Linked DNA regions of Homo sapiens: region 1 is linked to region 2. A link means that fine-mapping ties the variant in region 2 to the expression of a gene that starts in the linked region. Tissue or cell type: whole blood. Region 2 holds a variant in brackets; the other region holds the start of a gene. All regions are shown on one strand. Distances are between the middles of the regions.

Region 1 (8,172 bases), 25 kb before region 2:
AGGAGGCTGAGGCAGGAGAATCACTTGAACCCAGGAGGCAGAGGTTGCAGTGAGCCAAGGTCGCACCATTGCACTCCAGCCTGGGTGACAGAGCAAGACTCCATCTCAAAAAAATAAATAAATAAATAAATAAATAAATACTCCAGTGTATATTTCCTAAAATCAAGGACACATTCTCTTCTATGACCACAGGACAAGCATTGAAGCCAGGAAGTTGGGCATCCATGCAGTAATTACCTCATCTACAAACTCCGTGGCAATTTGCCCCTTACTGGTGATATTAACTTTGATCACTTAGCGAAGGTTGTGTCTGCCAAATTTCTCCACTGCAGAGTTATTATTTTTCCTTCCATAATTAATTATCATCTTGTGGGTAAATAACTTGAAACTATGTAAATACTTTCTCATCAAGCTTTCATATCCATTGGTGATTCTTGCTGCAACCCATGATTACTATGGTGGCTGCCTGATGGTCATTTCTTTTTTTTTTTTCTTCCTCTTCTTTTTTTAATAGAGACAAGATTTCGCCATATTGCCCAGGCTGGTCTCAAACTCCGGGCTCAAGTGATCCTCCTGCCTCGGTCTCCCAAAGTGCTGAGAATACAGGTGCGAGCCACCATGCCCAGCCTGAGCTCCCACTTTTAAATAGGACATTGCACCATGGCCCTTGATCTTGACCAGAAAGGGAGCTATGTCTATGGGAAGCAGTCCCTGCAGGGTGGATAATGAGGCACTGACCCCCTTGTTCTGGCAGGCTGGGGATGGGAGTAAAGGATCTAGGCAGCATGGTGTCCAGGAGTGTTGTTCAGGTCCACTGAGAATTCACTCACTAGCTGAGCACCTACAGTGTTCCAGGTGTGGCCCCAGCTCTTGAGAAGCTCATAAAAAAGGGAGTAGATTGGGAGGCTGAGGCAGAAGGAAGGCTTGAGGCCAAGGGTTCAAGATCAACCTATGCAATATGGTGAGACCTCCATCTCTGCAAAAAATAGAAAAATTATCCAGGCACAGTGATGCACACTTGTAGTCCCAACTACTCGGGAGGCTGAGGTGAGAGGATCGCTTGAGCCCAGAAGTTCAAGGCTGCAGTGAGCTATGATCATGCCACTGCACTCCAGCCTGGGCAACAGGGCAAGACCCTGTTTTGTTTTGTTTTGGTTTTGGTTTTAAAGGGGGTGGGGGGTAGAGAAAATAGACAACTCACCATTGTGCAGTTTCTAAAACTGAGAACTTTCCTACCCCAAAGGTTAACCTAGGTGGCTCTTTCTGCTATGCACATGGAGAGGACTGAGCAATTGGTTTTTAGAGATCCTTTTGAGTGCTAGACAAAGCTGCCTCAACATTTGGTCACTTGGGAAACTAGTGGGCCAATTTGCATACCAAACCCACAGCCTGTGGGAGGGAACGGAAAGAAGCCATAGTGTCTGGTGGACCAAGGCACAGAGGCAGGAAAGCAAGACAAGGGCGCTGAAATCGAATTTGCTACATCAAGGAAAGTGGGGGGCTGGGCGCGGTGGCTCACGCGTGTAATCCCAGCACTTTGGGAGGCCGAGGCGGGTGGATCACGAGGTCAGGAGATCGACACCACGGTGAAACCCCGTCTCTACTAAAAATACAAAAAAAAAAAATTAGGAGGGCGCGGTGGCGGGCGCCTGTAGTCCCAGCTACTCGGGAGGCTGAGGCTGGAGAATGGCGTGAACCCGGGAGGTGGAGCTTGCAGTGAGCTGAGATCGCGCCACTGCACTCCAGCCTGGGGCAACACAGCGAGACTCCGGCTCAAAAAAAAAAAAAAAAAAAGGAAAGTGGGGATCCTTACTGGTGATCAGGGTGCCACATAGAGGCCTACCCATTTGGAGAGGCCCTATGCCCTCCACAGTGGAGTAAGTGCCATGATGTCGGCTTCACAGGAGGGACTGTGGGAGCGATGGAATTTCAGGCAGTGGGAACATCATGAGCAAAGGAAAGCAGGGGATGAACAGCAACATCCACCCCGCACGTGGCCTCCAAAGCCATCTCTTTTGGGTGGGGCTTCCCACCACGGCGCACACCCCTCATGTTTATGTGGCCCTCCTCCCCTGGTTGCGATGTACCCCCAAACATCTGGGCCAGGAATCATTCAGACCTGGATACCAATTCCAGTGCTTGTACTTCCTAGCTGAGTGAATTTAGAAAGTCACCTTCACCTCTCTGAGCCTCCAGTCATGTATTCCTTCAACATGTATTTACTGTGGGCCTACTATGTGCCAAGCACTACTCCAGGCACTGGGCAGGCAGTGGTGAACAAGATAAGCCTGGCCAGGCGCAGTGGCTCATGTCTGCAATCCCAACACTTTGGGAGGCCGAGGTGGGTGGCCTGAGGTCAGGGGTTCAAAACCAGCCTGGCTGGGCATGGTGACTCACCTGTAGTCCAGCTACTGGGGGGCTGAATTCCTTGAACCTGGGAGGCGGAGGTTGCAGTGAGCCAAGATTATGCCACTGCACTCCAGCCTGGGCAACAGAGTGAGACTCTGTCTCAAAAAAAAAAAAAGAAAAAGAAAAAGAAGCAAGGCCTGCCTTCATAAAACATACATTCTGGTTGGGGAAGACAGACAATAACCAGCACTCACATACATAAATGATGAAACACCCTACAGAAGTATTAAGATAATATAAGAACAAATTTCAAGGCTGGGTGCGGTGGCTTGCGCCTGTAATCCCATTACTTTGGGAGGCCAGCGTGGGTGGATTGCCTGAGTCCAGGAGTTTGAGACCAGTTTGGGCAACATGGCAAAACCCTGTCTCTACAAAAAAAAAAAAAAAAAAAAAAAAAAAAAAATACAAAAAATGAACCTAGCATGGTGGTGTGTGCTTATGGTCCCAGCTACTTGGGAGGCTAAGGTGGGAGAATGGCTGGAGTCCAGGAGAAGGAGGTTGCAGTGAGCCGAGATTGTGCCACTGCACTCCAGCCTGGGTGACAGAGTGAGACCCTGTCTCGAAAAAAAAAAAAAAATTCAGAGGTGAAGACTGCTTTAACCAGGGTGGTCAGGAAATGTCTCTCTGAGGCAGTGACATCCGGGCTGACGTGAAAGATGAGAAAGAGTCAGGCAAGTGAACAGAAGACCAGACAGCCAGTGCCAAGGGCCTGTCGCAGGAATGAGCTTGGTATGTTTGGGGGACAGAAAGAAGGGCACTGTGGCCGAAGAGCAGTGGATGAGGAGAGAGTGGCCAAAGAAGGTGTGTAAACAACCTGAGCTTTGTTTTGAGAAGAACATTGGCTGGTATAGAAAGAAAGACTTTGGAGGCAAAGTAGGGAGCCTCGGAGGCTGCTGCCATTGTCCGGGTAAGCTGATGGTGCCGAGACCAGGTGCCATGACTGGAGGTGGTGAGAAATGGTCCTATGCAGGAGACCTGGAGACACCGCTAGCTTGAGTCCTGAGGTGGGGAGGAAGGGAGAGGGAGGGATGGAGCCAGGCTCCAAGGTTTTGGCTTGAGCAGCTGAGATGGGGTGGCAAGGGAGCAGAGGTAGGGCTGACGATCAGGAGCGGGTTTTTGGGCCGAGTCCTCTGCAGTGCCCATCTGACACCCACTGGATGCGCAGAGTGGGCAGCTGGCTATGAGTCTGGAACTCAGAGAAGCTGTTCGCTCCGGAAATACAAACCTGGGGCTCATAGCCATATAAATGTCATTTAAAGCCACGGGACTGGATGAGATCATTAAGGCAGAAGGTCTAGGTCGAAAGAAGAGGGCCAGGACCACTACCTGTAAAATGAGCCAATGACACCTACACCCACGGGGCTCTCGCGAGGTGTCACGTGAACGCACCCAGCGAGCCCTGGAACCAGGCAGAGAATCGCGGCAGCCCCGGGGGCGGGGCTTCCAGGGGGCGGGGTCATACGGGGGCGGGGCCGAGGGACCAAGCGGCCGCTCCTGGCCGGAGGGCGGCCGGGTCGGTGACGTCACCGCATGACTGGGTTTTTATGAATGAAAGGAATCCTGTGAGTGAGTAATTCCGGGAAGCTCGCCTTACAACTCCGCGCGGCCTCGGCCCCCTGCGCCGCCCGCCCCACAACAAAACTCAGCGCAGCGCTCCCGGGCGCCCGGTTCAGAGCGACCTGCGGCTCAGAGCGGAGGGGAGACTGACCGGAGCGCGGATCGGGACAGCGGCCGGGACAGCGGCGAGACGCGCGTGTGTGAGCGCGCCGGACCAAGCGGGCCCAGAAGCGGGTGAGGAACGCGGGACCAGGAGGACGGTGCGCGGGACCCCAAGGCGGCAGGGTTTCTGCGTCCCGGGATGCGCCTGGGGTGGGCGCCCGGGCCCGATCCGTCGGGGCTCCCGGAGCTCCATCGCCCGGACGGCTCGGGGCGGGGAGAAGGGAGCGGCCGTCCCGGGGACGCCGAGGACGGGGCCGAGGCCAGCTCGGGGGAGTGGGGGTGGAGACGGGGCCCCTTCCCGGGGCGCGGGCGGGTAGGCGGCGGCGCCGGGAGGAAGGGGCAGCGCAGGCCGGCGATCTCCGCGTCCGCCCGGCGGGGGCGGGGGCGCTGTGCTCCTACGTGACTCGGTGGGAACAGGCCCTGGCCCGGCGCCCGCGGGCGGTGCGTGCGCGGTTTGTTTACGTCCGAGGGCGGGCGTGTGTTCCCTGGCGGGCGGCCTGGGTATCCTGCCCGGTGCGTGCGTGCGCTGTGTACCTCGGGGGCGTGTGTGCGTGTGTTGTGCTTGTGTGTGCGTGTCCGCGCGCGCGCTCCCTGGGGCCTGTACACCAGCAGTGTGTACCTCGGAGAGGGCGTGCCCTGGGCCGGCCACCGGAGTAAACGCGGAACAAGGACCCGAGCGAAGGAAGCGGACCCGTGCGTCTTCGCACGGGGTCTGGGAATTCTGGCCCGGGCCGCCCCAGTCCTACTACCCGGGGCTGTCCGTCCCCGGCTCTCCCCGGAGTTTCCCAGGGCCTCCGCCACGTGACCCCAGTGTTTGTCTCCCGCCCAGAGCCCGCGCCCGCAGCCACAGGGTGGGGCAAGGTATCAAAGACCCCACCCAGCTGAGCTAGGAGTGAGGGATGTGAGCCACCCCCGCTTGGCACCCCGGTGGATCTGGTAACAAAGTGAGTTGGAGCCCAGGTTCTTGTCCCCAGATTTTGGGGCTTCCTGGGGAGGGAAGAACCAAGGGACTCTCGTTCGTCCCCAGGGTTGCCCATCCCCTCAGTCCCATGAGAACAGGAAGGGCCAGAAAACCTTGACTGCAAGGGTGCGGCGCAGGGAGAGGACCACAGGCTTTTAGCTAGTCCGGGTTCTGGAGGCTGTACCTGCTAGGTCGTGGAGGATGGGGCGGAGCCGGTTTCCGCTCTCCTGGTAGTTTCAGTTCACAAGTGGGACTGGTGAGACTAGACTGACCTACAGCTGGACGCCGGAAGCTAGCTGAGGCTCTGAGCCAGCCGACAGACCCCGAGTGCCCTCACCCTGGGCCAGGCAGGGTCAGTAGGCATTGGGGATAGAACTCTGACTGCACGGAGGGTTAATGAGTGAGGGGTGGGGCCTGACCTAGCCGCCACCCACCCACTCACCCAATAGCCCTGCAGAAAGCACCTGTTTGTCGTAGCCGCCTGCAGGATGGGCTGGGGGCTAGAGATTCCTTGGTCTTAATCCACCTTCCCCCTCCACCCACCCACCCACGGTCTATGGAATTGTGGGAGGGGAGCAATTGAACTTGCTAGGGTGAGGAACCAATGATCTTTTGACTTTGGATCTTTGAACCCTGGGTGAGCTCTGCTACAGCAGCCCGGACCCTCAGTATTCCCATCTACCACTGGGAACTAGGTAACAGCCAGGATGGCAGGATGGTGGGTAGAAGGGGGAAGCTCTGGAAGTCTGTGCAGACAGCGTATTTTCCAGGTGAATTGTGGAAGAGAAAGCAGGGCTGACAGCCCCATGCCAGGAGCTGGGGGTACCCAAGAGTAGGTGGGGTTTGAGTCAGGAGGGTTGGGGCCAGGAGCACAGGAACCAGACAGGCCCACCCTCAAAGCTGGGCAGGAAACATTACAAAGTAGGGCCTGGGGTCAGGGGATGAGGGGAAGTGGCTGGTTGACTCAGTCCCAGATGGAAAGTTAGCACTGAGAAGTTTAACTTCCCATTGAATCACCCCTGGGCCCTGCATTGCCATTGGGCCCTTGTCCTGGACCAGATGCCAGGGATGAGATGAACAGACCAGATCCAGAGACTGCCCTCTGGGAGCTTATAGCTCAGCAGCGGACACAAACTTGAAAAAAGATCCACAGAAGTAAATGCAAAACACAGCTTAGATGGGTGATGTGAGGGAGAAGTCACTGTGGTTTGAAAGTACATAACAGCGCTCTGACTTAGCCAGGGCAATCAAGGAAGGCTTCCCTGGGGAGGTGACTAGTGTGCTGAGTCTGATAGAGTGGTGGTTGTCTGTGAAGCCCTTGAAGGCAGGAGCTGTGATTCACTTCAGGGTCTCCAGGGCCCAGCACAGAGCCTGGAACATAGTAGGTGCTTCTTGGATGTTTGCTGATTGAATGAATGAGCCCTGGATCCCTGCCCTCTAAGAGCTCCACAACACATGGAGAAAAAGGCCTGGGAACCCCAGAGAAACAGGAAGCCAGGGCAGGGGCTGGGGGAATCTTGAAGCAGTCTCCCAAAAGCGAGCAAATCCTTCAGGACTCAGGCAACTTCCTCCCTCACACACACAGGCATGCACTGCCCGCTTGTCCCTTTGGGAAACATTCAGGGATAGTAGAATTTGCTGTCTGTTCATTCATCTGTTAGCATACGATCCTGGGAGAGAGTGGACAGGAATACGGTTGAGGCCTGAGGACCCTACTGTGTTGGCTTGCGGGGAGGCTGGCATTGCAGGGTTTTGAAATGGGCCAAGCACGGACAGGCTCGTGGGTTTGTGTCAGTAGTGATTCCTCTGACAGCTCTTGGGGGAGGATCAATGATGGGGATTGGAGACGGAGGGCAAGGCAAGAGGCTGGTGAGCAGGCGGTTGTGGTCATGGTCCAGATGAAGGAGGAAGTGGTCTGTGGCTGTGCAGGTGGAGAAGAGGGCTAGTCTGATAGTCTGATAGTTTGTGTCTCATGCCCCCACCTCCAGGAAGCCTTCACCGCTTTCCTTTCCCTACCTCCATTCTGCTGGTGGTCTTGGAGCTCTGGGCCAGAATCTGAAACTCTAAACTCAGAGACAGTCATTGTTGGAAGGTACCTTAGGCTCGGAGGACGTTTGGCATAGTGGGAAAACTGAGGCCCAGAGAGAGGGAGTGCCGTACCTGAGGCCACACAGCGAGTGTGAGAGGGTACCTGAACTGGGGCTGGAACCCCAGGCCGTTGCTTCTCTGTGGTGCTTGGTTCTTCCAGCCTTGCTCCCCTTCCAGCAGGGAGGAGGCTCCAGCAGTGCTGACTGCCAAGAGCTAGGAAAACACATTTTTTCCCTGTCCTCACAGAGCGAGCAGAATGGCTCAGCAGCCAGAAAGGAGCCCATGCCAGCGGGTGGGCCTTCTACAGGATGTCTCTGGAGTGGACTGGTGGGGCCAGGGAGGGGGACGTTGGAGGGTTGTGGCTGCTGACTGGACAAGGCAGTTGTCAGTCCCTCAAGAGTCACCTCTCTCCTTATGCCTCCAGAAGACGTCATGAACCTGCAGACCCTGGAGGTCAGCTCTGCTGGCTTCCAAGGGAAGAAGCCAGGGAGAGGTGGTGGTGGCCGACATAGAAGACAGAGGACCCCTGGGTTCCAGTCCGCCACGGCTACCAAACAGTGGCTTGGTTGCCTCAGGTGCTGAACAGGGGATCGGATCAGCTACTATTTCTCAGGCCCAGGGTCAGCCAGCCTGGCAAAGGCAGAGGACCCAGGCCCCTTGGCAGCCCCTGGCCTGGGGTTGGCAGCGGAAAGCCTGAGGTTACCAGAAAGTTCCCCCTTCTTGTGACTTTCCCCCTGTGATTGCCTGACTGCTGAGCTAGGACATTCCTGGGCAAACGTGGGTGCCTCAGCTGACATCCAGGATGCGGTTGAGGGGGCTGAGGCTCGGACAGGAGGGCATGGAGGAGTGGGGGAAGAGCAGGTTCAAAACCTTCCTAGCACCTGAGGGTATTTACAATCACAGCCAGCTTCCGCTATTATCAAGGATAGGGAATGGCTGATGGTTCCATCTCTCAGGCCTGGTCTGGAGGCAGTGTTGAGGATTCTAGGCTGTGT
Region 2 (8,172 bases):
CCTTTGTGCACCTGCTCTTTGGGCACAGAGTAGGTCTTCCCCCACCAGGGAAGGCACAGAGGAAGGGGGGCGGGAAGTGGGCCGCGGAGCCCCGCTGCAGGCAGACATTTCTACAGTCCACACCACCCACCACGGAGCCTGTGTGGGGCCTGCAGGTAGGCCCTGGGGAAGTGGGTTTCTTGCCTCCAGCCACTCGGGCAGACAGCTGGCAGCAGCCAGGCTCCTGGGTGGATGTGTCAGAGAAGGAGGCTCCCCTCTCCCCAGTCCCTCCTGCCCCTTTACTGGCTCAATCAGTCTCAGGCATTCCCAGCCTCCTCTTCCCCATCCTCCAAGGACAACCCCCTTCTGCCCAGTGGCCAGAGGCAGCCCTTCCAGCCCAGTGGAGCGTCCCGGGCAGCAGCACTTTCACATCACCCTGGGAGTGCTTAAAGCACAGAACTCTCACAGCACACCCAGCCTGCCAGCCCGGACCCATTACAGCGGGATCTCCGAGGGTGGGGCTGGGTATCAGCACTTCCAAAAGCTCTCCAGGGCATTTTCCAGTACAACTGGGGCTACTTACCACTGTTCTAGCAAGGAGGAAGATTCGCAGGTGTAAAAGAAAGCTGTTAAAACCTATTACCATCCGAGTCTGTTTCTCAGAAGTATTCTTTTTTTTCTTTCTTTCTTTTTTTTGAGACGGAGTCTTGCTCTGTCACCCAGGCTGGAGTGCAATGGCACAATCTCGCTCACTGCAAGCTCCGCCTCCTGGATTCACACCATTCTCCTGCCTCAGCCTCCCGAGTAGCTCGGACTACAAGCACCCGCCACCACGCCCGGCTAATTTTTTGTATTTTTAGTAGAGACAGGGTTTCACCGTGTTAGCCAGGATGGTCTCGATCTCCTGACCTTGTGATCCACCCGCCTCGGCCTCCCAAAGTGCTGGGATTATAGGCGTGAGCCACCGTGCCCGGCCAGAAGTATCCTTTTTTTAAAAAATAGCATATGAGATGAGGGAATTACAGGACAAAATGGTAACCACAGTGTTGGGAGTTAGAAGCCCGAGGGAATTTGTCTATTCATTACAGTCTCTGTCTGTATCAGCCCTGGACCGCCACACTTGGACCTGCTGCAAGGGACAGGTGGCCTGAGCTTCCAGGACCGAATCGGTCGTGCTGGTGGCACCTGCTCTTCCCCGACCTCTGTGGCCCCATTCCTGCATATAGAGTGGGGATCCCATGTCCTGACCCAGCCGCACCTGTAGGATGCTGGGAGGTGGGAGGGTCCTGGGATGTTTGGGGCTCCCTGCTTCTCCCAGCGGGGGTCGCCTAGGACCCTGGCTCATACCTTGTGCGTCCAGCCTCTTGTCAGCATAGACCTTGTAGGTGAAGGCGTGCCGCAGGGCCAGGGCTGCAAAGAACATCTCCACACAGATGATGAAGTCCTGGTAGCCGGCAGCCACGGTGCCCTCGCCCACCGACACGCGGGCCGAGTGGATTTTGGGGATGGCCCCACACTTCTCCAGGATGGCCAGGAGCATGCCTGGATGGGGAGGCACGGGTGTCTGGACCCAGAATGATTCCTTTCCTGCTCCCCCTTCTTCCACAATGCCCCATTCAGCTGCCCACATGCCCCAGTGAGGATGTGAGCAGGGCCACAGCTGCTCCTGCAGGGCAGGGGTAGCGACACAAGGCCACAGCCTCCGGAAACCCCACTCTCCCAGCTCTTTGCCACCGAAACTGAGATGCCAGCAATTACGCAGGGTCTCCTGGGCCCTCTCATCCATGTAGCGGCCCCACCAAAGCTCTCCCTAGCCCCTGGGAAAGGCCCTCGAGGGCTCAGATTTCACCCCCAGCAAGTGCCCAGTGGGCTGAGGCCCCTCTGAACAGGCCCTACAGGCACCAGGGACCATAAGCAGAAGGGGCAGCAGGAAGCGCAGAGGACAGGGTGGCATGGGCAGCCTCCAGGTGCTGGGAGGGGGCTCACCTTGCCAGAAGGAAAGAAAGATGACGGACTTGACCATGAAGAACTTGAGGACGGGGCTGTAGGGGCTGAGCAGCTCCCGGGTGGCGAAGTAGAAGAGGAAGAGGGCGTAGAGGGCCAGGCTGACGGAGATGTTGTAGATGATGGTCACGTAGAGGTAGCCACTGGTGACGCTGCGGGACGGGGAGCATTTTCTGGCTGGGACAGACCCTTGGAGGGAAGGGGCTCTCCTCGACTGCACCACACACAGTCCCCATGGCTCTCAGCCCCACACCTCCAGCAGAGCTCAACGAGCCACTGAAGGGGTCAGAATGGGTGATCAAAGCGACAGACAGGGGTGGGGGTACATGGGGTGCGCCTGCAGGCCAGACCAGCTCTACTGCCTCTGCGTGGCTCGTGGACTTGTCTAAGCCCTGGTGCCCACACTCCTAACGTTGGACACCAGTGTGGAAGCCAGGGCCGGGCCCGAGGCCATAGCCTGACACTCAGATAACAGGCGTCAAAATAGGTGACGCTGCTCAGCTCTGCTGCCTTTTCACTCGGTCGGCTGCATCCCCCTGACCTCCTTTTGCCCACCTGCCCTGGCAGGGCTGTTACACAGTTCACAGACAGTGTGTGCCGAGAGCTTGAAAGCACAGGGCTAGACACATGGTCACTTTTTTTTTTTTTTTTTTTAGATATGGAGTTTTGTTCTTGTCACCCAGGCTAGAGTGCAATGGCGTGATCTTGGCTCACCGCAACCTCTGCCTCCTGGGTTCAAGCGATTCTCCTGCCTCAGCCTCCCGAGTAGCTGGGATTATAGGCACCCGTCACCACGCCCGGTTAATTTTTTGTATTTTTAGTAGTGATGGGGTTTCACCATGTTGGCCAGGCTGGTCTTGAACTCCTGACCTCAGGTGATCTACCCGCGTTGGCCTCCCAAAGTGCTAGGATTACAGGCGTGAACCACTGTGCCCAGCCACGGGGTCACTTTCACTAAGCCCAGAATGAAATGGGTGTGGACAATTTACACAGCACGGGCTTTGTATCTGTGGACTTGAGCCGACCTCTTGGGGCTCTGACCCTCTCGCTCCCTGCCTCAGCAGTGGTCACTGTCCCTTTGTGGCCCATCCCTTCATGGTACCACTCTGCAGCCTGGACATGAACGTGACTGCTGCCAATGGCTCACTCCGGGGCTGGCAGCGGGGCCAACTGCAAGGGTGTCCACTGCTGGGCTCAGACTTCAGGGGGGTTGTGAGCACCAGACACCCAGGAAGGTCATGGCTGTGCGGCCACTCTGGCTGCCCCCTTCCCTGAGCCAAGGCACCAGCCTGCGCCAACACTCCTCCCACACACCCCGGGGAGCACCCGCTGCTTACTCAAAGTCCCCATCCCGGTACTTGCCGAAGGCCTGGAGGACCACAGTGCTGACCGCCATGAGTGGCTTCACCACACAGAACTGCAGGGTGGCCTGTTGGGGGGAAAAGGAGGTTGAGTGTGGAGGAGGAGCACAGAAGGCATGAAGCAAGCCCTGCCTCTGGCAGACGGAACTGTACCGGATGGAGGGACAGAGAGGATGAAGGAGACGGAGAGGACGGAGGGATGGAGGGACGGAGGGGATGGAGGGACGAAGGGATGGAGGGGATGGAAGGATAGAGGAGATGGAGGAGATGGGGGGTGGCTACGTGTCCTGCTCCCAGGGGACTGCTGTCTGCGCGGGGCGGGGGGCAGAACATATAGGAGATGCAGCCAGCGCAATGCCGTATGTGATATGAGCATGTGGAGGAAGGGAGGGAGGAAGGGAGGAATGGTGTGGCAGGGCACGATGGAGGCGGGAGACAGGAGATGCACACAAGGAAGCTTCTCGAGCCAGGACCATCAGGTGGGTGCCGGAGATGAGAGGCTCGACAGGCAGAGGGGGCAGCTTGCACCAAGGCCCCGAGGCAGAGGGTGGACAGGTGCAAGGGGCTGCGCACTAGAGAGGTGGCTGAGGAGATGGGCAGGGCCAGGTCCTGGAGACCTTGGTGCCCGGGGCAAGGCTAGGGCCCTGCTCAAGGAACCAGCCACCGGGAAGCCGGCGCAGGTGAGGGCCTCCTCCCATCCTCCATGTCCACCCCCGATCTGGTTCCTAGCCCTACTCTCTGGGCCTGGGTCCAGGGTTTCTGGTCAGCAGAGGTCACTCTGGGGATGGAGGTGACCTGCAGGAGCCCAGAGCACGTGGACTCCAGAGTCTCAAAATCTGAGTTTGAACTCTGGGGACAGCTTGGGCAGACACTTGGCCTCTGAGCACAGACTCCCTGATGAAAAG[G/A]ATGTAGTCACTCCCCACACCACAGGGCCACTGCTGCGGGGATGGCACAGCCAGGAAGCGCAGCATCTTCTCGGGAGTCTCCCGCCTCTGTACATGCACTAACGGCGCCTGCTAGCTGGCTGAGCCACGGAAAGAGTTCCTCAGCCAGGTTTTCCCGATTCCCTACGGGCGGACCCATGGTGCCCATAACATCACTAGTATCACCATTATCTAGAAAGCAAATAAATCTAAGCCCTAAGACCCCTTCTGAGGAGCTGGGGGAGGTTAAATCCAATCCAAAAGGCTCAACTAGTGTAGCTGCAAAGAGGACGAGGAGCCTGGAGTGGGAACCGTGATCCGTGAAACCTGCAGCTTCTGCCCCAACTGGGGATCTGAGTGGGTCTTGCAGGGGAGCCCCAGGCAGCCCACACCATGGGGCTGCCATACGGAGAGGCCCGCGTGATGGGGCAGACGTGCAGTCCCACTCTCAGAAAGCCCCACAGAACGTCCCTGGCCCTGTCATCCCGCCTAGAGAAGTGGGACTGGCACCTTCTGGGGAAAAGGGAAGAACGGCAGTTTGCATGAGTTCCAGTTATGAGCCTAGCAACAGGCTGGTGTTTCCCTGGGTCAGCTCACCTGGTACTCATGACAGCCCCCTGACGTGGGTGCTGTCATTATCCCCATGGTACAGGTGAGGAAACTGAGGCAGAGAGAAGCTGAAGCAGCAGCAGCAGCAGCAGCAGAGCCCAGGCCAGCAGGCCCCAGAATCATCACCTGACCATACCCTGGACCAGTCAGCAGTTCCCAGGCTGGGCTGGACATCAGAACCCCCAGGGAGCTTTAGACATGTGCCAGGTTCCAGGGCTCCATTCCAGAACTTCTCCTATGGGCTAGGGTAGTGGGTGGTTGATCTGGGAATCTCTACTTTAAGTAGGGAATCTCTCCAGAAGGTCTGGATATTGAGCACTGGCCCTGAGGAGTCAAAGGCCTGTCTCTGTGCCTCTAGGACAAAGCTGTGGGGTGTGCTCTCTCGCCCTGGTAAAGAAAGGAAGAGGCCTCTTTTGTTCTCTTTCTTCTTATATCTCTCCCTGCCACCGCCAGGAACAAGAACAGAACATCTGAGCCCACAGGGCTGGGGAATAATTTCTAACAAGGCCACACTAGCTAACAATCATGAAATCAAAATTTTGTAGACAATATAATCATCAAACAAGGCAGTGAGTCACAGCTGGCCGGAACCTGGGTGGCTGCACCAACTGGTAAACAATGGCTCTCAATGCCCCACCCTGAACCCAGGATAGTTTTAACTCTTTCCCTGCAGGTCCAGTGGTGAGATTCTGAATTTAGGAACATGCTAGGGAAGGAAGGTCTGGAAGCAGAACTGGAGACTTGGCATGTTCAGGTGGAGGCTTTGTGGGTGTGCCCGCCCTGTGGCCTGGGCCCTGCACAGAAGGGAGCAGCAGGCCCCGCCCTCCAGGGCCATCGTGACTTGGCTGTGGGTTTCATGTACTTTCGTGACTACTCTTGGCGAAGCTGGAGGGGCTGACATGACAGAGCCCCTACGGAGCCCCAGAGGAGACTAACGCAAGGTCATGAAGAGTGGGCGTGATCCCCTCAGACTCTGCCTCCCTGAACAGGAGGCCGTGGGCTCCACCACGCCGGGCTGAAAGCTCTACATCCATGACCTCATCTGATCCTCACAACCATCTCTAGAGAGGAGTATCATTACACTCATTTTACAGTGGAGGAAACTAAAGCTCAGAGAGGGTAAGCCAATTATCCAAGGTCACAGAGTCAGAGGAAAAGCTGGAAATCAGGCTCAGATGGTCAGACACCCAGGCCCACACACTGAGCGACCCCACCACACTGCCCCCACCCAGGCTACTCTAGACCACAGGGAGGTCAGCCCAGGAAGCTAGAGCAGCTGGATTGCCAAGGCTACTCTAGACCACAGGGAGGTCAGCCCAGGAAGCTAGAGTGGCTGGATTGCCAAGGCTACTCTAGACCACAGGGAGGCCAGCCCAGGAAGCTAGAGCGGCTGGATTGCCAAGGCTACTCTAGACCACAGGGAGGTCAGCCCAGGAAGCTAGAGCGGCTGGATTGCCAAGGCTACTCTAGACCACAGGGAGGTCAGCCCAGGAAGCTAGAGCGGCTGGATTGCCAAGGCTACTCTAGACCACAGGGAGGTCAGCCCAGGAAGCTAGAGCGGCTGGATTGCCAAGGCTACTCTAGACCACAGGGAGGCCAGCCCAGGAAGCTAGAGCGGCTGGATTGCCAAGGCTACTCTAGACCACAGGGAGGTCAGCCCAGGAAGCTAGAGCGGCTGGATTGCCAAGGCTACTCTAGACCACAGGGAGGCCAGCCCAGGAAGCTAGAGCGGCTGGATTGCCAAGGCTACTCTAGACCACAGGGAGGTCAGCCCAGGAAGCTAGAGCGGCTGGATTGCCAAGGCTACTCTAGACCACAGGGAGGCCAGCCCAGGAAGCTAGAGCGGCTGGACTGCCAAGGCTACTCTAGACCACAGGGAAGTCAGCCCAGGAAGCTAGAGCGGCTGGATTGCCAACCAGGAAATGCAGGGAGAGACGAAGAGACGGCAGAGGCCTGTTCTGGCGTGTGTCTTTAATGCCAAAACCCTCCTGCCCCCTAGCTGCAGCTGATGAGAAGTTTTCAAATGGAGGTTCTAGAATCCCCACGCACTTCTTCTGATTTTCACACACACTGAGACTTGGTCACACGAGCAAGAGTCTGGGATCAGCTCTTGCCCACAGTGCAACAGACACTCCCAGGATGTCGGTCGCTGCCCCTCCAAGCACACCCTGCTAATGTGGTATCTGCCTAACAGCTTCGGGGGGTGGGTGCTGGGGGCCTGGGGTGCCTCATAGGAAAGGGGACCTCTAAGGTGGGGCCCAGGGCAGCCCACGGCAGGGCCTCCCAGACCCCGCCCTGCTCCTCCTGAGCTAGGCAGCTGCTGGGGGCACACACCTGTTTGCAGAACCTCAGAAATCCGATGGAATAAGTCTTTCCCCAGAGGCAGCAGGTGCCATACATACAGCTGGACCTGGAAGAGACAAGCATAGCAGGCAGTGGCAGTGAGTGAAGAGCCAGGACTTGGGAACAGTGGGGTGGGGAAGGCCGCCCTCCCACCCATCCAGACGAGCTGGGGCACACATTCTGGGCAGACTTTGAACCCGAGGCCAAGCACAGGGAGAGGCATGGCAGGGCATCCGCACATGCCATAGGCGGAGGGACACAGGGCTGCACTGGCCCTGGGGTGACAAACCAACTTGGAGAGCTCTGAATGTAAAAACTGCAGGAGGCAGAAACAGACAGGAAAGCACTAAGACTGAGACAGGAAGAGACAGAGAGAGAAAGACTGAGCCGCAGAGGCCCTCCTAAAACGCCCAGAAGAATGGCGTTGCTCAGGAAATGTGGTGAGGCACAGCAGGTCAAGGTCACGGGCAGACATGGTCTGTGTCCAGCTGGTGCCAGGACGGCTCGAGGTACACCAGGCCCAGGAAACGGGGTGGTTTAGGGCTCTGGGAAGACTCCATACTCACTCAATGGGTTTTCCTCTGATCTCCGACATGATGGAACTTTCTCCTCCTAGGTACTCATAGCACAGGCTCAGGAAATTATAGATGACCAAGGCTGCGAAGAGAGTGTCCAGGAGAAACCAGTCAAATCAGCAGAATGGGTCCGCAGATGCTGGGATTCTAAACAGCAATGGAGGTGAAAGAGCCACAGCTGTGTGTGGCAACAGGGAGGAGGCTGGGGGACATAAGGTTGTGCAAAAGGAGCCCGTCAAGAACACAGACATCTGACCTCCCACTCCTAAGTTCAAAACCCGGCACACCTAAATTATCTTATCCCGGGATGCACCCCTGCACTGGCGTAATACTATGAAGGGACTGTCGTGAGTTCAGGGTTATGTGGGGAGGCCAGAG

The links. PIP is the estimated chance that this variant, and not a neighbour inherited with it, causes the effect.
Region 1: it holds the start of MAFF, and the variant in region 2 is fine-mapped to the expression of MAFF in whole blood (TOPMed, PIP 0.97).

The regions. Positions count from the first base shown.
Region 1 is chr22:38,198,013-38,206,184 of GRCh38, forward strand. MAFF (MAF bZIP transcription factor F) reads left to right here and starts at 3,982. Exons shown (of 3, transcript NM_012323.4): 1 at 3,982-4,200. RefSeq lists enhancers at 1,070-1,119, 6,504-6,648, silencers at 3,809-4,138, 4,199-4,638, 5,489-5,568, 6,789-6,838 and a cis regulatory region at 6,576.
Region 2 is chr22:38,223,459-38,231,630 of GRCh38, forward strand. It overlaps TMEM184B (transmembrane protein 184B), which reads right to left. Exons shown (of 9, transcript NM_012264.5): 4 at 7,786-7,876; 5 at 7,211-7,286; 6 at 3,321-3,412; 7 at 1,966-2,135; 8 at 1,327-1,521. It overlaps SNORA92 (small nucleolar RNA, H/ACA box 92), which reads right to left and starts at 1,262; the gene lies at 1,021-1,262. TMEM184B-AS1 (TMEM184B antisense RNA 1) reads left to right here and starts at 7,862. Exons shown (of 2, transcript NR_186700.1): 1 at 7,862-7,957. RefSeq lists enhancers at 1,201-1,701, 5,526-6,256. The variant G/A (reference allele first, on the strand shown) is at 4,250.